Linked DNA regions of Homo sapiens: regions 2 and 3 are each linked to region 1. The links come from fine-mapping of genetic effects on gene expression. A gene starts in region 1. Each other region holds a variant in brackets. All regions are shown on one strand. Distances are between the middles of the regions.

Region 1 (5,000 bases):
GGCAGCTGCACACACACAGGTACAAACGCAGTGGCTCACACACACAGAAATGCGGGGTTGGGGGACAGACAGAGAACATGCACCAAGACCCCCAAAGATCCATGCACGAACGCCGACGCAGGCATGGACAGAAACACACGCAGATGCCCCGCCACCCGCATACAAGCAAAGGCACAAAATGCAGACGTGTGCCACACACCCGCACAACATTTGCAGTGTTAAAGAAAGGTGACCGAGACACACATCCTGAACAGAAACTTCACCAGGTCCAAACACTCCCTTCTTTCAGCCACTCACACACCTTGTGGAGCTAACTCTTGGAAACAGCCCCAGAAAAATACTCCCACACCCCCCCTCCCTGGAGCACACGGAATTATTCCACAGGAAACCTGCCCAGGTGTGCTGGAGACCCCCACCCAGCCCTGTGTGAAGTCATGCCTCAGCTCTGCAGACGCCCCCATCCGGGTCTCCCCAGACGACAGGCCTGTGAGCCATTCTTCCCACTCTCCTGGCCCACCCCCAGGCTCCAGACAGGTCCCCACTTTTCCCTATTTCCTCCAGACACAGAAACACAGGCGGCTCATAGGTGCCTCAGGAGACACCCATAGTCGAGAGCAGACTGAGTGTGTGACCCAGTATCTTGGACTATGCCCAGGCCTTTGCCCATGTGGGGGCCTCTTCCTCACAACCAGGTTTTCCTATTGCCTCCCGCTTTTTGTCCAGGAGGTTCAAGATCCCCCCTGCTCTGTCTCGGGAGCCCCAGAGCCCCAGGGTCCTAGGCCCCGGGGCGGGCGGGGGGGGGGTGTCACTGGAGGGCCTACCCAAGCCTTTATTTCTTTGTGCCTAAATCAGCAAAGCCTCAGTCTTTTCTCTGGCTCTCACTTCCCTGTCACTTTGCTAAGTAATAATTTCCATGTCCAATTCCATTTCTTTTCTAGTTCTGAAACCTCTAAGCTATCAGCAAGAGGATAGTTCACATGAAAACTAATTACACAAAATCAATATTTAATCACAGACCAACAACCTGATCCTGCAGAAAAATCCTTTAAAAACTCCACCGCCCTGTACAAATACTTATTCCCTATGCTTATTTATGGACCCCATTTTTGATGGGGGTAATTTTCATTTTTAATTTCAAAAAAGAAAAAATATATATGTCTGTAAACTTCCACAACAGGAAGGCCCCGGGAAAGGTCTTGGATCTGAGCTTGCTCTGGCTGAGTTTTAAAGTTGTTGTTTTTTCTTGTTTGTTTATTTTTAATTAAAATTTTTTTTGGGCGGGGGGCAATTTCTTAGGAATTCTGCCGCTACCCCAAAGTTGAGCCCATTTCCCCCCACCCCCGGCATGTCGGTTCTGGCATACTTAGCACTGCCTTCCTAGCCGCAACTCAGGGGAGCAATGAATCTGCGCGTACGACATGGTAACTTTTTAACTCCTGCCCGCGACGGTGGAGTGCTTAATCTAAGGTTTTTAAATAAAAAGGGCTCAGGGGTTGGTTTTATTATAACGTTTATTTCATTTCAGATTTCATGCGTAATTTAGCAAACGCTAGACAGACTCGGGCGATAAACACTTTCTTTTGTGGGGGGGGAAAGGCATTTTCATACACCACGCTTAATTTTATTTAGATTTAATAGCGATATCAGGGGCACTTCAAAGAAAGTTCTTTTTTCGCCCTTCTCCTAAGAATGCGAATCTGCTAGCAAAATCGCCTCGTGCTATTTTATGGCAAGGAAAATTAAAGGCCTTCTCCCCCCTCCTTCCCTACACACACTTTAGGGAGGAACACACACACACACACACACGCATGCACAAACACACGCACGCAGGCGCGAGCACACGCACACAGGCGCACAGAATAAACACCTCTATCCTCCATCACCTCTAACTTCCAACTTCTAATTGCAAGATAGATTTCAGCCTCTGTGGGGATCAGGACGATCTAAACATTTTAACTAAGATTATTGGGATAAATATTTCATAAAGAGCAGGGCAGATATTAAATTACTCCTATTGATTTTAGTATCACAGCCCAATTCCATTCCTCGGCCTCTTCAGTTTAATTGATCTCTTAAGGAGGCCAACTTCGCACCCGCAGAGGGTCTGGGTCTTGGACCGGGTGGCCCAGGGCAAGGTGTGCGGCCCGGCGGGTGCGCCCTCTTCGTGCGTGTCTTCTCGGGGTTCCCAGCCGCCTCGCAAGTCGCTCCGGTTACTGGGCTCAACCGATGTGCTCCCCCATAAAGTGGCTGAGTGACTGTGACTCCTTGGAGCCCACGCCGGCCGGTGAGAACCGGGAACCCCAGGCAGTGGGGAAGGGGAACAATTGTGAACGCCCTAGTGACGGAGGAGTGAGCAAGCGCCCAGGTCTCTCGAGGAGAACCCTAACTTCGAGGTTCCCCGTCTGCTTTACCCTCCAAGAAAATCCCAGGGCCGGCTAACTTGGGCGCCGCTAGCGGAGAACGGAGTGTTCACCCCGGAGCCGAAGTGCAGTAGACACTTAGCGACTTTCCGTGGCGAGTCTAGGGTCTTTGCCTGGCGACCTCATTGTCTGAGCGCCCCGTACCGCTCACCGCCCACCTCCCCGCCCCCTGCCCACCCGGTGGGTCTCGCTCCAGTTGGGGGTGGGGAGTTGGGAACAGTGTGAATGGGAAGGGGGTGAACAAAGCCAAGCTCCCGCCATTCTCCTCCGCCTGCACCCTCTCCAGCTCGATGCGCCCGGAGGCCGGGGCGCGCCCCCAGCGCACTGACGCCGGACCCCGAGGAGAGGCGGGCGCAGGGGACCCCAGAGCTGGGGTAGTGCGGGTTCGTGGCGGGGGCTTCGGCAGCCAGGACCCCGGACCACCTTAAGAGCGAGCCCCGCCCCGAGCCCGGAACTTGGGCGGCGCTGATTGGTGCAAATGTAATGGCTGAAATTGATTGCTGAAATGCAAAACTTGTTGCTGCTTCTCCCGGCGCTGGGCGAGAGGCAGACACAGAGAGGGGAGCCGAGACCCTCGGAACGCCCCACGCAGAGCCCCCCCGCTAGTCGGGAGAGGGGTGCGCAGACCCCCCAGAGCTGCCCCCGCGCCCCCCTCCCCCCATTCCGGGCTCTGAGAGCGCAGCGGGAACGCCTTAGCCTGCTCGCCCGGCGTGGCCCCCCGACCCGCGTACGCCCCCCTCCCTCAGGTCCGAGAGGGACTCGCGAAGCACCTCAGCGCGGAGGCAGGGAACCGGAGCCTTGGAGCGACCCAACCCCTCGTCTCGCTGCCCTCCCGCGCCTGCAACGGTGCGCGGAGACTCCGGCGAACTCAGACACCCAACGGCGGAGAACAGAAGCGGCAGGCGGCGGACGTGGCCGCGAAGCTGCGCGCCGAACGCAGCGCACCCGCTGCCGAGCAGAGGAGCCGCGCCTTTCCCCGACCCTCGGCTCCAGCCCCCGGCGCCTGCCGCCTCGCAGCCCCTCTGCGTCCTCGGCTCGGGGGCCGGCACCGGCGATGCCGAGCGGAGCCTCCAGTCCTCCGACCCGCTGAAGAAGCAGCAGCCGCTCGCCCGGAGCCTACGGGGATTGTGCGAGCGGATCGTGCTCGGTGGAGGCTCGGGCTGCGGGGCGCGGGGACTCCGGGGGGCGGGGGGAGGGACCGCTCTGTCGGTGCCCGGCGCCAGCCGCGGCTTTGAAGGGTCTCCCTCCCCTGCCCTTAGCAGCTCTGCCACGGACTCCGGGAGGCTGCGGGCGGCGTCCTGAGGGCTCCCCAGCAGACCCAATCGGACTTGAGAAGGTGATCGCTCTGCTCTCCCAACCCCCTTCCCTCCCCATTCCCCCCACTTAACTTTTTGTCTCCGTTCATCCGCGGCTTCGTCCCCTCCCCGCAGACCCACCCGCGGCTGTGACAACCGCCCGGGGCATGGGCCCCCCAACACGGCTCCTAGAGGCCCCGCGGCCTCGCAAGATGTGAGAGGCCCTCCCCGGGCAGAATCGGAGCTTCAGGAGAGGAGCTAATACCCCGCCCCCCGTCCCTCACATCAGGCGGGGTGGAGGTGCGCGCTGAGCCCCCGCGGTGCTGAGCGTCCCGGAGCGCCCAATCCTGGGCTGGAACGAGTAGCTGGCCGGAGGCGCGCCGCGGAGAGCCGGCTGTCATGCCCTATTGATCCCCCTCTGCCCCCCGCCAAGTATGTTTGGGCTGGACCAATTCGAGCCCCAGGTCAACAGCAGGAACGCTGGCCAGGGCGAGAGGAACTTTAACGAGACCGGACTGAGCATGAACACCCACTTTAAGGCCCCGGCTTTCCACACTGGGGGGCCCCCTGGCCCTGTGGATCCTGCTATGAGCGCGCTGGGCGAACCCCCGATCTTGGGCATGAACATGGAGCCCTACGGCTTCCACGCGCGCGGCCACTCGGAGTTGCACGCAGGGGGGCTGCAAGCGCAGCCTGTGCACGGCTTCTTTGGCGGCCAGCAGCCTCACCACGGCCACCCGGGAAGTCATCATCCCCACCAGCATCACCCCCACTTTGGGGGCAACTTCGGTGGCCCGGACCCCGGGGCCTCGTGCCTGCACGGGGGTCGCCTGCTCGGCTACGGCGGCGCAGCCGGAGGCCTGGGCAGCCAGCCGCCCTTCGCCGAGGGCTATGAGCACATGGCGGAGAGCCAGGGGCCTGAGAGCTTCGGCCCGCAGCGACCGGGGAACCTCCCGGACTTCCACAGTTCAGGTGCCTCCAGCCACGCCGTGCCGGCCCCATGCCTGCCGCTGGACCAGAGCCCTAACCGAGCCGCCTCCTTCCACGGCCTGCCGTCCTCCAGCGGCTCCGATTCCCACAGTCTGGAGCCACGGAGGGTGACGAACCAAGGAGCCGTCGACTCGCTGGAATACAATTACCCGGGCGAGGCGCCCTCGGGACATTTTGACATGTTTTCGCCCTCTGACTCCGAAGGGCAGCTGCCTCATTATGCAGCGGGTCGCCAGGTTCCTGGGGGCGCTTTCCCGGGCGCCTCGGCCATGCCCAGAGCTGCGGGCATGGTGGG
Region 2 (8,084 bases), 140 kb after region 1:
TCCAAGCCCTCTCTGGCACTTGCTGTGTGACTTAGAGCAAGTGAATCAACTACTCTGTGCCTCTGTTTCCTCACCTGTAAGTTGAAGATATTCACAGTGTTTATGTCATAGGGGTCTTATGAGGATGAAATGAGTTCATTCATGCAAGATGCTTAGCATGGGTCCTGGCACACAGTAGGTGCTCAATAAACAGGAGCTGTTAGGAAGGCATGGGGAATGAAGGACATGTGGAACATGGGAACCACCAGCCAGTGGTTGGTAGGGAATGTCTAGAGCCCAGAGTGGGGTGTTGTGGCCCCATGTGGAAGCTTGGGGAACCAGGGCTTAGCCTTGTAAAGAGAGTGGGTGGGGGCAGGGCAGGGTAAAGGCTGGGAGGTTCTGGCAGGAGGCAGGAATTCTAGGTGAGCAATACTGGGGCGATGAAACTAGAGCAGAAATGGAGGCAGGGACGAGAAGGAGGTGGAAAGGAGGGGCTTGGAACCTGTCTAAATGTGGCAGGAAGAGGAGGGGTGTCATCCAGGAGAACCGTCCCGGGTTCCAGTGGAGGAGAGGAACCTACAAAGGGAGAGATGGAGCCCCTGACTGGTGGGGCCAGCCACTCTCTGAGAGTCTCTGAGGTGCCCAGCCTGGCCCAGGAGGTATCATCATGCTTAGGGTGGCAACAAAATTTGCAGGCTGCCGTGTGAAACAAAACTGCAGTCCTCCTTGTTTAAAAGGCAGGAAAAATGTACAGTAAAGGTACTAAAATAGGAAATGTTTGCCCTTCTTCCGTGAGTCTCTTCTGCTCACCTGCATGCTTCACTGCCCCACTGGGCTTCACTTACAAAACATAGATAGGTGCAGAAATTAAGAATTTCAAGATGGTGGCCGGGCATGATGGCTCACATCTGTAAACCCAGCACTTTGGGAGGCTGAGGTGGGCAGATCACATGAGGTCAGGAGTTCAAGACCAGCCTGGCCAACATGGCGAAACCTTGTCTCTACTAAAAATACAAAAATTAGCTGGGTGTGGTGGCGCATGCCTGTAATCCCAGCTACTTGGGAGGCTGAGGCAGGAGAATCACTTGAACCTGCGAGGCAGAAGTTGCAGTGAGCCGAGATCACGCCACTGTACTCTAGCTTGGGCAACAGAGGAAGACTCTGCCACACACACACACACACACACACACACACACACACACACACACACAAAGAATTTCAAGACGGTAACAGCAAAACATAAACCCAGCTTGGAGCCTTTCTGAGCGCCGGGCTCTGTGCAACTGCAGAGATCTCATGGCCGTAAAGTTGGCCCTGATTCATGCCCATTCTGCAGAGGAGAAAGCTGAAGCTCAGAGAAGTGAAATATCCTGGTATTCTCACTCCAATTCCAGAACCCCCTATATTCTGCACCCCCTTCCAATGCTTGCTCATGTCTAATTGTTATTCACCAATCTCCAGAGAAGGGTTCGAAGCAATTGATGGTAAAATGCAGGAGCTGTTAACACAGGTGCAGTGGAAGGCACACCATGACCCTGAGGGAGGACGCCGGCCTGGGAGCTGTGTGACCTTGGATGGGCCGTGCAAACTCTCTGTGCCCACAGTCCCTCTGCAGAGACTGGTTCAGAACTCCTGTTTCCCCAGCCCCCAAGCCTTGCCTCCCTTCCTGACCCATATTCCCCTTGGTGTCTGAGGCTTGAAGCGGTTATAAAAAATAAAACCACAGTCCCCTGATGTGCTTTCTGGCTTCTCAGGCCTTATTTTTTTTGGCCGCTAAGGAGACTAATAAATGGCTTGCCACTTGACGTAATCATTAAGGGCTCCACTGAGCTGTGGGCAGTGTTTTCTCTCCTCCTTGGCCGGGCCTGGGGCGCACAGCCACCGAGGGTGGCAGTGATGGATGGTGTCATCATGGGGCTTGCCCGGGGGAAGTGCTGGTGGTGGT[C/T]GGCCATGGCTCTCTCTCCTGCAGGCTCCTGGGCTATTCATTATGCGAAGGAGGAGCTGAAGCGTGGGGGTGACGGCTGGCTTCCAGAAGGAGCATGGACTGGAATTCCAGGCGGAGTGTGGGCCAGGGTGTATATAAAGATTAGTGTTCGGGTGCAAAGAGTCAATTGATGAGTGGCCAATAAACAGAGGGAAGGAAAGCAGGGTATAATCCAATAATATACATTAAAACATTTTCTGAAGTTAGAAAATTGGTAAAAACTTTAAAAATAGAATTAAAAAATTAAAAATTAAAAAATTACGTGATTGTTTGCAAAAATGTTCTTAATTTGCCTCCCTTCTCTGTATCTGTATCCTTTGCAATGTGGCTTTGCAGTTCCTCCCATCAAGAGATAGAGTCTGTTTCCCACTCCTTGAATCAAGCCTCAGTCATGTGACATGTTTTGGCCAATAGAATGTGGTGGATGTGATGATGTGATTCTGTACCTGTTCTGAACCTCGGCCATAAGGGACTTGCAGCTTCGATTTGCTAACCTGAAATTCTGCTGCTGCCATGGAACAAGCCTGGGCTAGCTTGGGGGAGGAGGAGAGACCATGTGGAGTAGAGCCAAGCTCTGGACATTTGAGAGAGCCCGGTAATAATCAGCAAAATCAGCCAGTGATGCACAAGTAGGCTGATTGAGATCAGAAGAACCAGCTGACTGACCTGTGGATGCATGAGCAATAATAAATGCTTACTATTTTAAGCCATTGAGTTTGGTAATGGTTTGTTACACAGCAATAGCTGACTGATACAAATCATAATGCCCAGTATTGGTGATGGTGTGGGGAAATAGGCTTTCTCACACATAAGTAGCAGAACAGTTTGCTAAAATTTTGCATATCCATTGAAGCAACAACAACAACAACAAAAAATGAAAGGGTTATTATGGAGATTCTTTTTTTTTTTTTTTTTAAGAGACAGGATTTCATTTTGTCACTCAGGCTGGAGCTCAGTGGTGCAATCATAGCTCACTGCAGCCCCAAACTCTCGGGCTCAAGTGATCCTCCCACCTCAGCTTCCTGAGTAGCTGGTATTACAGATGTGTGCCACCAAGCCTGGCTACTTTTTCTTTAATTTTTTGTAGAGATGGGGTCTACCTATGTGGTCCAGGCTAATCTCGAACTCCTGGCCTCAAGCAATCCTCCCGCCTTGGCCTCCCAAAGTGCTGAGATTCCAGGTGTGAGCCACTGCTTGGAGATTCAATGCCTGGGCCAAATGCCTAGCATAACACTTAACACTTAAAAAATGCCCAACATGTCTTGGTCCCTTCTCTGTGGGCATATCACAAAGGGCAACAACATTTGGAAAGCTTATTCATAGTCTCTGTTTTGGGGATGGATTCCTTTAGAAATCCTAAAGAATTTGTTTCTTATGGACAAAGATTTTATCAACGAGGATGTCATGACAGCATTGATTATAGCAGATCAGTAGAAACAAACAACCTGACCAATGCTGTTACAACACTAGTAATAACCATTGTTACTTATTTTGCTGTTTTGTTTTTGCTTATTACCACTTATTTTTACTTACATTGCTTGAATCAATTAAGGTCTAGCTACAGGCTGAAATTCAGTTCAGCCATAAAATTAGGTCTTAGAAGAGGACTTATAGACATAGGGAAATACACTTTCTTACATATAACCAGCAGAGGGGCAGTTTGCTAAAACTTTGCATTTCCATTGAAGTAACAAAAAGATGGAAAGGTCTTTATAGGTTCAAGGTAATATTATCATTTTGTGGGTCAAATGTTCAGGCTGTTAAATGAGAATAAAACCAGATTACAAAATAGAATTACATTGTGATCTCCATATACCTGAAAAATTGTTGTTTTACATCTGTCTCTTTCTTTCTTTAAATCTGTGCAGAAAAAAAATATCTGGAAGAGAGTAATCTATTATAAGATGTTGTCTGGGTTTGTCCCTGATGTTGGGCTACAAGTCTCTTTTTGGTCTTCATCTTAGTGCATTTATTTTAAGCTTCTTCTGTGCCAGATGCATACATTTGGAGTCTCTTTTACTCCTTACAATGAATCTGTGATGTGAGTACTAGGACTGTCCCCATTTCACAGATGACGACATTAAGGGTTTGAGAAGCACCTTGCCTGATGTTCCACAGCTAGTAATATAGGCAAATACCTACATTGCCAGATTGTCTACAATATGCATTTACTGTCTTGATAAAATTAGAAAAAAAACCCTGAAGTTAATTTTTAACAAAAGAAAGACGGAAGATCAGTAACCACCCTCAAGATGTAATGGTGTCATCCAAGATGGGGCCCTGGGCAGACAGGAGCTCCTGGATAGATTTGAGGATTCTAATGGGCCTGATTTTATGGGACGATGACCATCATAGGAGGCTGCGTGAATAGTGGTGCAGAGTGGGAACCGAGGAGAGTGACTGTCACGGTCCATGTGGGGCCAGTAGTACATCACACTCAGAGAGACCTTGACCCCTGGGGGCACTGACTACAGACCCTCAGCTCCACAAGGGACAGGACGTGTCTGCTGTGTGCTTGGCTGGATCCCCAGAACCCTGCAAAGCTCCAAAAGTAGGAGCTCAAGGAACATGAGTTAAGTGAGTGAATGAATGAATGAAATCAGAAGCCAGTGGCCAAGATGAGGAGGGATCTGGAGAAATGAGAAATAGTGCCTGCTGGGCGTGGTGGCTCACGCCTGTAATCCCAGCACTTTGGGAGGCCGAGGCAGGTGGATCACTTGAGGTCAGGAGCTCGAGACCACCCTGGCCAACATGGTGAAACCCCGTCTCTACTAAAAATACAAAAATTAGCTGAGCATGGTGGCACGTGCCTGTAATCCCAGCTACTCGGGAGGCTGAGGCAGAATAATTGCTTGAACCCAGGAGCCGAAGGTTGCAGTGAGCCAAGATGGTGTCACTGCCCTCCAGCCTGGGCGACAGAATGAGACTCCATCTCAAAAAAAAAAAAAATTAAATTAAAAATAAATAAATAAATGAGCAACGGTATGGGAACAACTGCTGGTGTCTCCCCACCAGCCCACTGCACTCTCTCAAATTCCCCCACTCGTGTTTCCTTCTTGGTTTGCAAAAAAACAAGAGCCCCTCCTGCCCTCTTCTGCTGAAGTTCCCCTTTGCATTTTCCAGACCTGGAGGAACCCTGAGAAACGATCTCACCTTACATTCTCAGTTGAGATTTAGCATTTTTTTTTTCAAACAATCTTTTCACTCTGATGAACAAAGAATTAGTCACTGGGGAAAACGGGAAGAGTGATAAAAATATGATGGAGCAGAACGCTGCCCCTGCCCCACCTTTCACCTTTCCACCAGCAGAACAATCAGGGTTGACATTTGGCAGCTCTAGCTGCTTTAGGTGTTGGGGGCCACCTACAATTTGAGTCAAACAGGAGATTCCTCCGCTTCTTCACACTTCACAAAGGTCTGGTCTGTCATGTGGAGAGGAGGTGCGATCTGTTCAGGGTCTCTCAGTGAACCAGGGGCAGGCCTGGGGCCGGGACCTGTGCTGCCTGCCTTGTGCACTTATTGGACAATCGTGGTTGGGTGCTATCTGTACATGAAGACAGAATTGAGGCAGAGAAGAGTGTAGTGGTAATCCCAGCACTTTGGAAGGCTGAGGTGGGAGGATCGATTTGAGGCTAGGAGTTTGAGACCAGCCTGGGCAACATGGTGAGACCTTACCTCTACAAACAAAATAAATAAATAAAAAATAGCCAGGAGTGGTGGCACAAGCCTGTAGTCTCAGCCACTCAGGAGGTTGAGGAGAGAGGATTGCTTGAGCCCAGGAGGTCAAGGCTGCAGTGAGCTATCACCTCGCCACTGCACTCCAGCTTGTGCAGCAGAGCAAGATCCCATCTCTAAAAAGAAAAAGAAAAAAGAGCAAAGCAGGCTCCAAAGCAGGTGGGAGATGTTTCTCTGAGAGGTGACCTCTGAGCTGGGGCCTGAGGAATGAGGAGCGGCAGGAAGGCTGGAGGAAATGCCCAGGGTGAAGGCCTGGAGGCTGGCTTGGTGTGAGCAAGGCAAAGAGTGAGAGGAGACGGGGTCAGATTGCTGGGCAGGGCCAGGACACACAGGGTCCTGAAGGCCATGGTAAAAGGTGAGCAGAGGGTTTTAAGCAAGGGGGAGACGTGACTGGATTCATGTCCTAAAAGGCCACTGGCTGCCGTGGGGCTGAGGCTGGAGTTCTGCCGAGGCTCTGCAAGTCCAGCCCCTGGCACATGGTTCTGATGGGACCCTGCCCTCCCTCCAGCCCTCTGGCATCTCTCCCAGGGAGAGCGCAGTGGGTGGGTCCATTGGCTGGGCCACAGGCCAAGGCCTCCTTGCATCAGGGAGATAGTGGATGGGGGTCAGGGAGCGCCTGCCCTCACTGCAGGGAGATGGGAACAGCAAATCCCTTCCCCGGCCTGGCTGGGGCCTGCCTGCCCTGCACGCTCCCAGTGACATCCCACTCCCGTTCCAGGCATCTGCCAAAGCAAGGCTGGCTGTGTTCTGCTTTGCTCAGCTTCCCTGTGACTTCAGTGTCATGCCATGTGAGGGGCCCAATGACCACAACTCACTGGGCATCCAGGTCAGGCCAGAGCCTGAACTAAGCACCTCTTATCAGCTCTGGCATATCACACCGGCCCCCCCAGGCTCAGACTCAACCAACGCTCAGGGACACGAAGTCACCTGCTGAGGGTCACACAGCCCATCATGGGTGCAGTGTAGGACACATCTCTGCAGGTCCCTCCTGCTCCACCCTAGGCTGTACCTCTCAGCCCTTGGGGATGCCCAACACTAGGTGAGAGGAAGAAAGGTGGGGGAAGGGTGTTCCAGCCAGTGGGAACAGCATATACCAAGTCCTGGGTGGACAGTGTATATATTTTTTTGTAATTGCGTTATTGAGATACAATTTACATACCATACAATTCACCCATTTGAAGTACAATTCAATGGTTTTTTTTTTTTTTTTTTTGAGACGGAGTCTCACTCTGTCACCCATGCTGGAGTGCAGTGGTGTGATCTCGGTTCACTGCAGCCTCTGCCCCCAAGGTTCAAGTGATTCTCCTGCCTCAGTCTCCCGAGTAGCTGGGATTACAGGTTCGTGCCACCACGCCCGGCTAATTTTTTGTATTTTTAGTAGAGATGGGGTTTCACCATGTTGGTCAGGCTGGTCTCGAACTCCTGACCTCAGGTGATCTACCGGCCTTGGCCTCCCAAAGTCTTGGGATTACAGGCGTGAGCCACCATGCCCGGCCTTAATGGTTTTTAGTATAGTCAAGAGTTGTGTAACCATCACTACTGTCAAATACCAAAACATTGTCATCACCCCCAAAAGAAATCCTATAATGTTAGCTATCACCCCCTACCCCCTGACAATCATTAATCCATTAATACTTTCTGTCTCTACAGATTTTCCTATTCTGGATATTTCAGATAAATGGAATCATACAATATGAGACCATTTGTGTCCGGCTTCTTTTTTTTGAGACAGGGTATTACTCTGTCACTCAGACTGGAGTGCAGTGGGACGATCATAGCTCACTGCAGCCTCGACTTCCCTGGCTCAGATCATTCTCCCACCTCAGCCTCCTGGGTTGCTGGGACTACAGGTGTGTGCCACCACACCCAGATCATTTTTTTGGTATGATTTGTAGAGATGAGGTTTTGCCATGTTGTCCAGGCTGGTCTTGAACTCTTGGGCTCAAGTGATCCCGCCTTGGCCTCCCAAAGTGCTGGGATTATAGGTGGGAACCTCCATGCCTGGCGGCATCTGGCTTCTTAGCACAATGTCTTCCAGGTTCATCCAATTTGTGGCATGTGTCAATGCCTCATTTCTTTTTATGGCTGAATAATATTCAATTATGATAGATATACCACATCTCGCTTATCCATTCACTTTCTGAATAATGCTGCTATGAACATTCATGTGCAAGCATTTGTGTGTTCACGTTTTCATTTTCTCGGGCATGACCCTAGGAGGGGCATGTCTGGGCCAAATAGGAATTCTATGTTTAACTCTTTGAGGAATTGACAGGCTTTTCTAATACAGGTTTTTTAAAAATAGTGAATATATAATATGTGTGCATCTGCATGTGCACTTGTATTTATATGTATGCGTTAAGTATGTGAACACAATTGTATATGT
Region 3 (8,084 bases), 75 kb after region 1:
ATGGCTCCCACTGAAGGCCTTCCAGAAGGACTGAATTCTCTGATGGGTGTGGAAGGGACCTAGAGCTGCTCAGGCTCCAGAATGAAGTGGCTTTTCTCCCTGGAGCTTGGAGCAGGGATTTCCCCCTTCAGAAAGCATCTGTATCACTCGGGGCTGGGGACATGGGGACACTTAAAAAACCCCAGAGGCCCAGGCCCTTGTCCAGACCCTCTGACTTACCCCACTGGATGTAGACTCTGGAATTAGGTCTTCTAGGCAGGCGGCATATCCCAGGTTGAGAGATTCCCCGACCGCTCAACTGTTCCGTCCTGGAGCCTGATGACCTCTTGTGCTGGGGAGGTGGAGAGGTGGCCAGGCCAGTGTCACATGGGGGTGGGGGATCAAGGGCTGTGAGCTGTGAGCTCAGATGTGGTTGGGCTGGGCTTCTTGCCATTTCAAGGCAGGTTGGCCACATCATTTGCAGGCCTTGGTACGAAATAAAAACACAGGCTTTTTGGATTACATTTGTCATGGGTCACTTTCAGAGGCTGAGGCAGGAGGATCGCTTAAGGGCAGGTGTTCAAGACCAGCCTGGGCAACACAGCAACACTCCATCCCTACAAATAATAGAATAGAAAAATTAGCTGCACGTGGCGGCGTGCACCTGTAGTCCCAGCTACTTGGGAGGTTGAGACAAGAGGATGGCTTGAGGCCAGGAGTGGAGGCTGCAGTGAGCTATGATTGTGCCACATCACTCCAGTCTGGGCGACAAAGTGAGACCTTTTCTCTAAGAAAAACAAATAAAAAATTCCAGGCCCCTTGTTCAAAAAGCAGAGAAAAATGGCATTAAGAAATGTACTAAAATATAAAGACTTTTTCCTTTCTTCCGTAGTCTCTCTCTCTTGCCTTGTCATGGCATTTTTTATTTGCTATTTAATATCCTTCTAAGTAAAGAAAAATTAAACTTTTATAAGTTATTAGCATGAATTTTACCACTCATCTTTATATTATACAATGCCTGTTTTAAGCGCAAATATTAGAGCATTTAACTTGTAAGCGGAATCACTGAAATGACAAAATTCATATTTATAGCTTGCACACACACAGGCATTTCATTATTACCAGAATGGCAGAAACGCTGCTCAAAACTAACTCAACTGTTATTATTATTATTATTACTATTATTATTGTTATTGTTATTTTGAGACATTGCCTTGGTCTGTCACCCCAGCTGGAGTATAGTGGTGCTATCCTAGCTCACTGCCGCCTTAAACTCCTGGGCTCAAGAGATCCTCCTGCCTCAGCCTCCTGAGTAGCTACGACTATGGGCACACGCTACCCTACCTGGGCTAAATTTTTAAATTTTTTGTTCAGGTGGGTGTCTTGCTATGTTGCCCAGACCAGTCTCAAACTCCTGGCCTCAAGTGATCCTCCTGCCTTGACCTCCCAAAGTGCTGGGATTACAGGTGTGAGCCACTGAGCCTGACCAAATCAACTGTTTTTATTTCACTTCTTGCCACATGCATACTGTACTAACACTCTCTACTTTTGGCTTACTGAAGAGTGAGGAAAGGCTGAAAGAAGGAACTGTGGGTTGCTCTGTCTTCCTCTTCCCTTCATTCTTTTCCTGCAGAAGTAAACATGAGTCCTTTAAGTAAACATTGGTCCTTTGTGTGTCTTAGAACATCATTGCCTCTTTCTGCCTTCAGGGTAAGGAAAAGTGCATGGAGAGTGGGGCCTTCTGGGGACGTCACCACTCCCACCTAGTCTTAGACACAGCCGGCTTATGACTGCCCCCGTCACACACTCATGAAGCTGGCCCTGCACCAGGGGTGCTACTTCCCATACAGATGGGGAAACAGACTCAGAAAGGGACAGACTCAGATGAGATCAGAGATGGCCAAACTAGGACCTCCCTGAACCTCAGTTTTCTCCTGATTGGATTGGAAATAAGATTTGCGTCATGGGGAAGGGGTATTGGTGAAGGCAGAGGTGGGGTTAAGCTCATTTCCCCTGCCTTCTACAGTTCAAGCATTTGCTTATTTATTCATTCAACAAACATTAGCTGACCACCACCTCCTGCGTGCTGGGCAAGGCGAACCTGATCCCACTCCTTGAGGAACTTCTAGTTTGGTGGATGGGATTCTCTATTCCTAGCCTAAGTGCACTGATTGGAAACTTTCAGACCCTGAGACAAACGTCAGGACTATGGTTGTCCTGTAAGTGGCCAGAGGGTTGGGCATTAGTGCTAGCGCCTGACTGAAGTGCCATGGAGATGGCTGCAAATTTGCTGGGAGTTTCAACAGCTGGAGAAAGGGCATTTCTGGAAGAGGTTGCAGCCTGGGCAAAGGGCAGCTGAAAGAGTTTCAGCAGAAACTACCAAAGCCTGGAACCTTGAGGACTAGGTGAAGGCAAAGATGGAGGTTTAAGCCAGAGTCTCTCAAAGCATTGCTCAAGGGTCATGTGACTCCAAATTCTATCCCCCCAGTTCTTTGGCCCAGGCCCCCAGCCACGATTTCGACTTGGAACTTGGCTCTCTGCATGAAGCTGAAGGAATTCCTCACAGCCCTGCTGATGGCCTAGATGTCTCAGGTTTCTTTTCTTTCCTTTCCTTTCCTTTCCTTTCCTTTCCTTTCCTTTCCTTTCCTTTCCTTTCCTTTCCTTTTCTTTCTTTCTTTCTTTCTTTCTTTCTTTCTTTCTTTCTTTCTTTCTTTCTTTCTTTCTTTCTTTCTCTCTTTCTCTTTCTTTCTCCTTCCTTACTTCCTTTCTTTCTTCTTTTTCTTTTTTCTTTCTTTCTCTTTTTCTGTTTTTCTTTCTTTTCTTTTCTCTTTTTCTTTTCTTTTTCTTCTTTCTTTCTCTCTTTCTTTCTCTCTCTCTCTTTCTTTCTCTCTCTCTCTCTGTCTCCCTCCCTTTTTCTCTTTCTTTCTTTCTTTCTCTCCACCTCTCTCTCTCTTTCTCTCTTTCCCTCTCTTCCTCTCTCTGTCTCCTTCTTTCTCCCACCCTCCCTCCCTCCCTTCTCTCTCTCTCCTAGCCTGGGGCCTAGAAGTCCCTCTGCTGAATCCCTGCATGAAAATAGCAGCTGCCTTGTTTATCCCACTGACTATATGTCCAGTAGTGTGCCAAGCCCGTGTATCTTTTCTACAAATCCTTACCCAACCCTATTGTTTTAGAGATGAGGAAACAGAGCTCAGGGAGCTGAAGTTACAACCCCAGGATCATTGTGAATGGGGGAGCTGGGCTTAAGTCCACGCCATTTGAAGCTCACCTGTGGGCCCTGAACCTCATGTTTAGGCCCGCATGCTCAAGTTTCCCTGCTCTTTCATTCATCTGCCTCCATTTCATTCATTTTATTCATCTGCCTCCATTACCTTCCCCCCTGCTTATGAACTCCTAAACATCCTTCAGAACCCTGCTCAAATGCCTCTTTGTTTTTTCAAGCACCCAACAAGGAACATTTCATTTCTCCCTCCTACAAATATTTGAGCACCTTCATATTCTAGGCATCGTGGTAGACCCTGGGGAAACACTGATGAATACACTGACTTGTTGCCACCAATTGACAAGGAAACACAAACCAGTACATTGTTATTAATTGTAAAAACAGTTATGAAGGACACGAACTGTGTGCTTTAATAAAGAATGATGGGGTGGGACTACTATGTAGTGGGTGATCAGAGAAGGTCTTTGGAAGAGGAAGGATTTGAGAACTCCTTCCAGGCAGAGGAAGCCAAGTGCAAAGGCCTAGAGGTAGGGAGAGTTTGATGTGTGTGAAGAAACAACAAGTTGGCCAGTGTGACTGGAGCACAAGGAGAAAAGAAAGACTGGTAGGAGGTGGATCAATGAAGCAGGCAAGCCTCCCTTAGCATAGTTCCCTAAGGCACTGAAGTTTAAAGGTATCTGCCTCCTTCCTGGGGCAGAGGGATCAGATCAAATCCTAGTGGTGTCGCCAGGGCAGGGCCTGACACCCAGGAGGTGTGCAGCTGAGATGGCTTGAAGCAGGGTCGGCCAGCAGGTGGTAGACAGCTCCGCCCCCTCCCTCCTTTCTTCCTTTCAAGAAAGAGGCCGGGCCCTTCCCGCATGGCTGGCTCCCCTGGGCCACCCTAAGGAACACCATAAGTCAGCTTGGTGGGGGGTGGACAACAGGGGCGCTGCTGAAGGACCCGGGAGGAGCCAGGGCGGTGCTCTTGTGGGAGTCACGCACCATCTGCAACTTGTTTTCCTGTGTCATTTGCATTTTCTCTGAAATTATTTTTTTAAGGATCCAGCCAAATGCACTGTCA[C/A]GCAGGCTGCAGATTTAAAAGAGTGTGGGGGGTTGGGGGAGAGCAATAGGCACTGGGTGTGGCCCTTCCTGGCGTCTAGCTTCCCTGAACTCACTCTCCAACCCCCTCCCAGCCAGAGGCCACTGGGGCTGGGCTCTTGTTGTGGAATGGATAAGAGTCGTGAGTCATGCACAACTAGGGCTACAGGGGCATCCCCTGTGCCTGGCTCCATGTTCAGAAAGAGCCATTCAGACTTCACAAGAGTCCTGTGCAAGAGGAAAGCCCATTATCTGCCCTGCTAGGGACACCGAGGCTCAGAGCCTGCTCACAGCAAGCAGAGGGCTGGAACTTCCAGCACACTTGCAGGGTAACTCCTATTCTCACGTTAAGGGTGGACGGATCTGTCAGATGGAATACAGGACTGCCAGATTCACAGGCTATTGTCTCTCTGCTTAGGACAGGAAGGGTTCCCAGAGGTCCTTGAGCACAACCAACTATTGTATAGCCAAGGAAACTAAGTCTTTCAAATAGACGGGAAGGGGTGGGGTCAGGGTTTGAACTAAGAATGTCTGCTTCAGAGAAGGATGAGTTATATAACTTCAGCCATAAAACAGGCACGTCCCCTACAAATGTGGGGCTGGCTCTGCTCAGAGAGGATCGTGGGGGAGGTAGACTTCTGTGTGGAGCCCCTCCCTGGTACATCATGCATGCCAGTGCGTCCTGAAGGGCTGGGTGCATTCCCCTTAGTGGGACGTGAGATAAATAATTTTGAATTCCCCATTGAGACAGCTATTTCCTCCCAATTCCTCTCATGGCATCAGGGAAAGACTCCTGTTGGTGCTGATACCTCTTTTACACCTGTCTCCAACTCATGCTTGTCTCCCTTTTTGACAAAGAAGTCCAGAGCCTTCTACGGGCAATGCTGTCCAGCTAGGATAGAGTGGAGTTTTGTCGAGGAGCCATTTGAGCTGAACCCTGAAAGGTCACTGGGAGCTTGAGAGGCAACTGGGAAGAATATTCTGTGTGGCGGGAACAGCTGGTGTATAGTACTGGAAACATAGGGAAGCGTGGCACATTTTGTAGAAAGGGGAACCACTTGATGTGACTGTAGGTGTGAGTGATAAGGCAGAAAGGGGCACAAGGGGAAAGTCCCCTGATGCCACGTGAAAGCGCCTGGGCTTTACTCTATGGATGATGGAATGGCTTTGAGCAGAAGCAAGGGTTTTGGAGGGAGTGACACTAGAGGCAGCTAGGCAGTTACAGGATTCTATCAGTACTCCAGGCTAAAGATGATGGTGATCTGCAGGAGGACAGTGGTTGTGGTGATGAAGTCATCAGACCTGGCCTAACCACTAAGTTTTGCATAATGGTAATAGTGATGATGATGGTAACCATATGGTGAAGAAAATAGTGATGACGATGGTGGTGATAATGGTGGTGGTGATGGTGATGATTTTAATGATGATGATGGTGATGGTGCTGATGAAGGTGATGATGATGGTGGTAACAATATAATAATAGTACCAACTGACATTTACTTTTGCATTCTTCACCTCAATGTCATTATGAGACCACTTTCCCGTGGGATTGACACCACTTTAATCCCCATTTTTCACATGAGGAAACTGAGGCTTGCCTATGGCCACCTGGCTACAGAGTGGCAGAGTGGGGCTGGGGTGCCAGGTTGGCCTGGCCTGACTTCTGAGCACTGAGCTCTGGACTCCATGCATCCTGTTTCCAGCCAGCAGCTGGGAAGGGCTGTACCCTAGCCTTCCCCTGTGCCCAGGGTGCTGAGATGTCAGGTTTCTCTCTTCCTAGGCCCTTGTCCTGCTCTGACCCTATGGGCTAAGCCTTTGAAGGCTCTGGTTGCACTTTCGGCTGGGGGCTTGTCATCCCCTTCGCATCAGTAGCTGTGCTCTGGTCCCAAGCAGGAGGGAGGGAAACCTTTCCACAGCCCACAGCCCTTTCATGCCAAACCCTGGCCTGAGTGAGATGAGTGTGGAGGAATTTGGTCATGTGGATCTAATTTCTCTTGAAATATGCAGCAAATGGTGCTGGACAAAGGCAGGCTGCATTGGCTGGACCTGAAATATGTAGGTGACTGCTTCTGAGATGTTTGACAACTCCAAGACTCAGCTGAATGGGCCTGCAGTACCGGGCTGTGGCAACTGGTCCGGGAGGGAGCAACTGAATGCCATAGCTCATTCCATATGTGTGCCAAGGACACATGGACAGAGACCAAGATGCAGGGAAATTGGGCCAGGCTGGGTGACGTGCAGAGCAGGGCTGCGTAGGCAAAAGGGACCCTTCCAAATGGCACAGCATCACATAGTGTCAAGAGTGAAGTTTAGAAGTTATTTTTACATTTTCCTACTTCGTGTGACCTGAGTCTCTTGACCTGGCTGAGCCTTAAGGGTTTCTACTGTCAAATGGGGAAAGCAGATTTGGAGGGAATGGAACAGAGCCAAACTGAAGTAGGAGGCAGAACTCAACTCCAGAGGTGGGGCTCAGACACTGGACCAAATTGAAGACTAGCTAAAACAGGGCCAGGATGGAAGCAGCTTTCCACAAGACTCCCCTCACCCACCAGTGTGCCATCTCAGTTTACCATTGCCATGGCAACACCTAGAAGTTATGCCCCTTTCCATGACAACAACCCAACGACTCAGAAGTTACCATCCTTTTCCTAGAAATTTCTGCATAAACTGCTCCTTAATTTGCATGTAATGAGAAGTGGGTATAAATATGACTGTAGGACTGTCTCTGAGCTGCTACTCTGGGCACACTGCCTATGGGGTAGCCCTGCTTTGCAAAGAGCAGTACCTCTGCTGCTGCACACTGACACTTCAATTAAAGCTGCTGTTTACCACCACTGGCTTGTGCTTGAATTCTTTCCTAGGCAAAGGGAAGAACCCTCCCAGGCTAAGCCCAAATTTTGGGGCTCACCTGTTCTGCATCAAAAGCAGGCCTTTTTGTTTCATCTACACAGAATATACCCCCACCAATCCCACAACCGTCCTTTCCTTCCAGGCATCTGTTCTTCCTCTTCTCAATAAGTGCTTCTGCTGGGGGCTGCCAATCATACTATCCCACTCTCTGACTGCTGTGACTGGGCTAAAGATGGTCATGTGACTCTTAGTGGGCCAATCGGAGCTCTTCTCTGGGATTTTTGCCCTTGGGCTGGATGAAGGCAGCCCCTTTTCCTCCATGAAGATGAGTCCTGAGCTGTCTGTGGCTGTGTCCCCCACTCTGTGAAGATAAGGAAAAAAGAAAGTGACCAGTAAAAAGAGAGGCAGATGAAGTCAAAGGCAATGTCTAGATGAGGTTGGCATCCTGGGAGCCTGTCTCACACCTGTCCTTCTCACAGAATTTTTGGTAACAAGAGCTAAGAACAACTCCTGTTTTGCTTAAACTAACTGGATTTGTGTTTCTGTCTCATACAACTAAAACCATATTGATAAATGCAAGCCTTTCCTGGCTTCCAAGGTGCTGTGTGGTTCATTACCCTTGTTGTTCCTCAGAGCCACTCTTGAGATGGGTATTCCTATTTACAGATGTCAATAATCATAATCATGTCAATTTCCCAAGAACTCAATGCTGTGCCAGCTACTGAGCTGAGCTTCTCTTAGAAATTATTATACTGAATCCTACAGTGCCCCTGGAGGTAGTGTTTATTATTTTCTCCATTTTGCAGATACGGGAATAGAGGTGCAGAGGGTCAAGGGGCTTACTCCAGGTCACACAGCTGACAAATGACAGAGCTAGAATTTAAACTCAGGTCCAGTTTTCAACCTCCATGTTACTAGTCTGTGCAGGTGGTATTGATGATGAAGAGCAAAGATTTAT

Direction of the effects. Positions count from the first base shown, and alleles are read on the strand shown. Sizes are in standard deviations (SD) of each study's normalised expression.
For the expression in tibial artery of the gene that starts at base 2,937 in region 1, T is the low allele of the variant in region 2 and C is the other (small effect, 0.15 SD a copy in GTEx).
With allele A in place of C in region 3, the expression in monocytes after LPS of the gene that starts at base 2,937 in region 1 is lower (large effect, 2.0 SD a copy in Quach 2016).

The links. PIP is the estimated chance that this variant, and not a neighbour inherited with it, causes the effect.
Region 2: its variant is fine-mapped to the expression of MN1 in tibial artery (GTEx, PIP 0.92).
Region 3: its variant is fine-mapped to the expression of MN1 in monocytes after LPS (Quach 2016, PIP 0.95). The same link has a PIP of 0.9 or more in monocytes after Pam3CSK4.

The regions. Positions count from the first base shown.
Region 1 is chr22:27,799,693-27,804,692 of GRCh38, reverse strand. MN1 (MN1 proto-oncogene, transcriptional regulator) reads left to right here and starts at 2,937. Exons shown (of 2, transcript NM_002430.3): 1 at 2,937-5,000. The coding sequence starts at 4,150. RefSeq lists enhancers at 1-528, 4,871-5,000.
Region 2 is chr22:27,661,105-27,669,188 of GRCh38, reverse strand. No RefSeq gene overlaps it. Among named protein-coding and RNA genes, the nearest start is that of CPMER, 50 kb to the left of the region's middle. RefSeq lists an enhancer at 1,234-1,733. The variant C/T (reference allele first, on the strand shown) is at 1,925.
Region 3 is chr22:27,723,164-27,731,247 of GRCh38, reverse strand. No RefSeq gene overlaps it. Among named protein-coding and RNA genes, the nearest start is that of CPMER, 12 kb to the right of the region's middle. The variant C/A (reference allele first, on the strand shown) is at 4,260.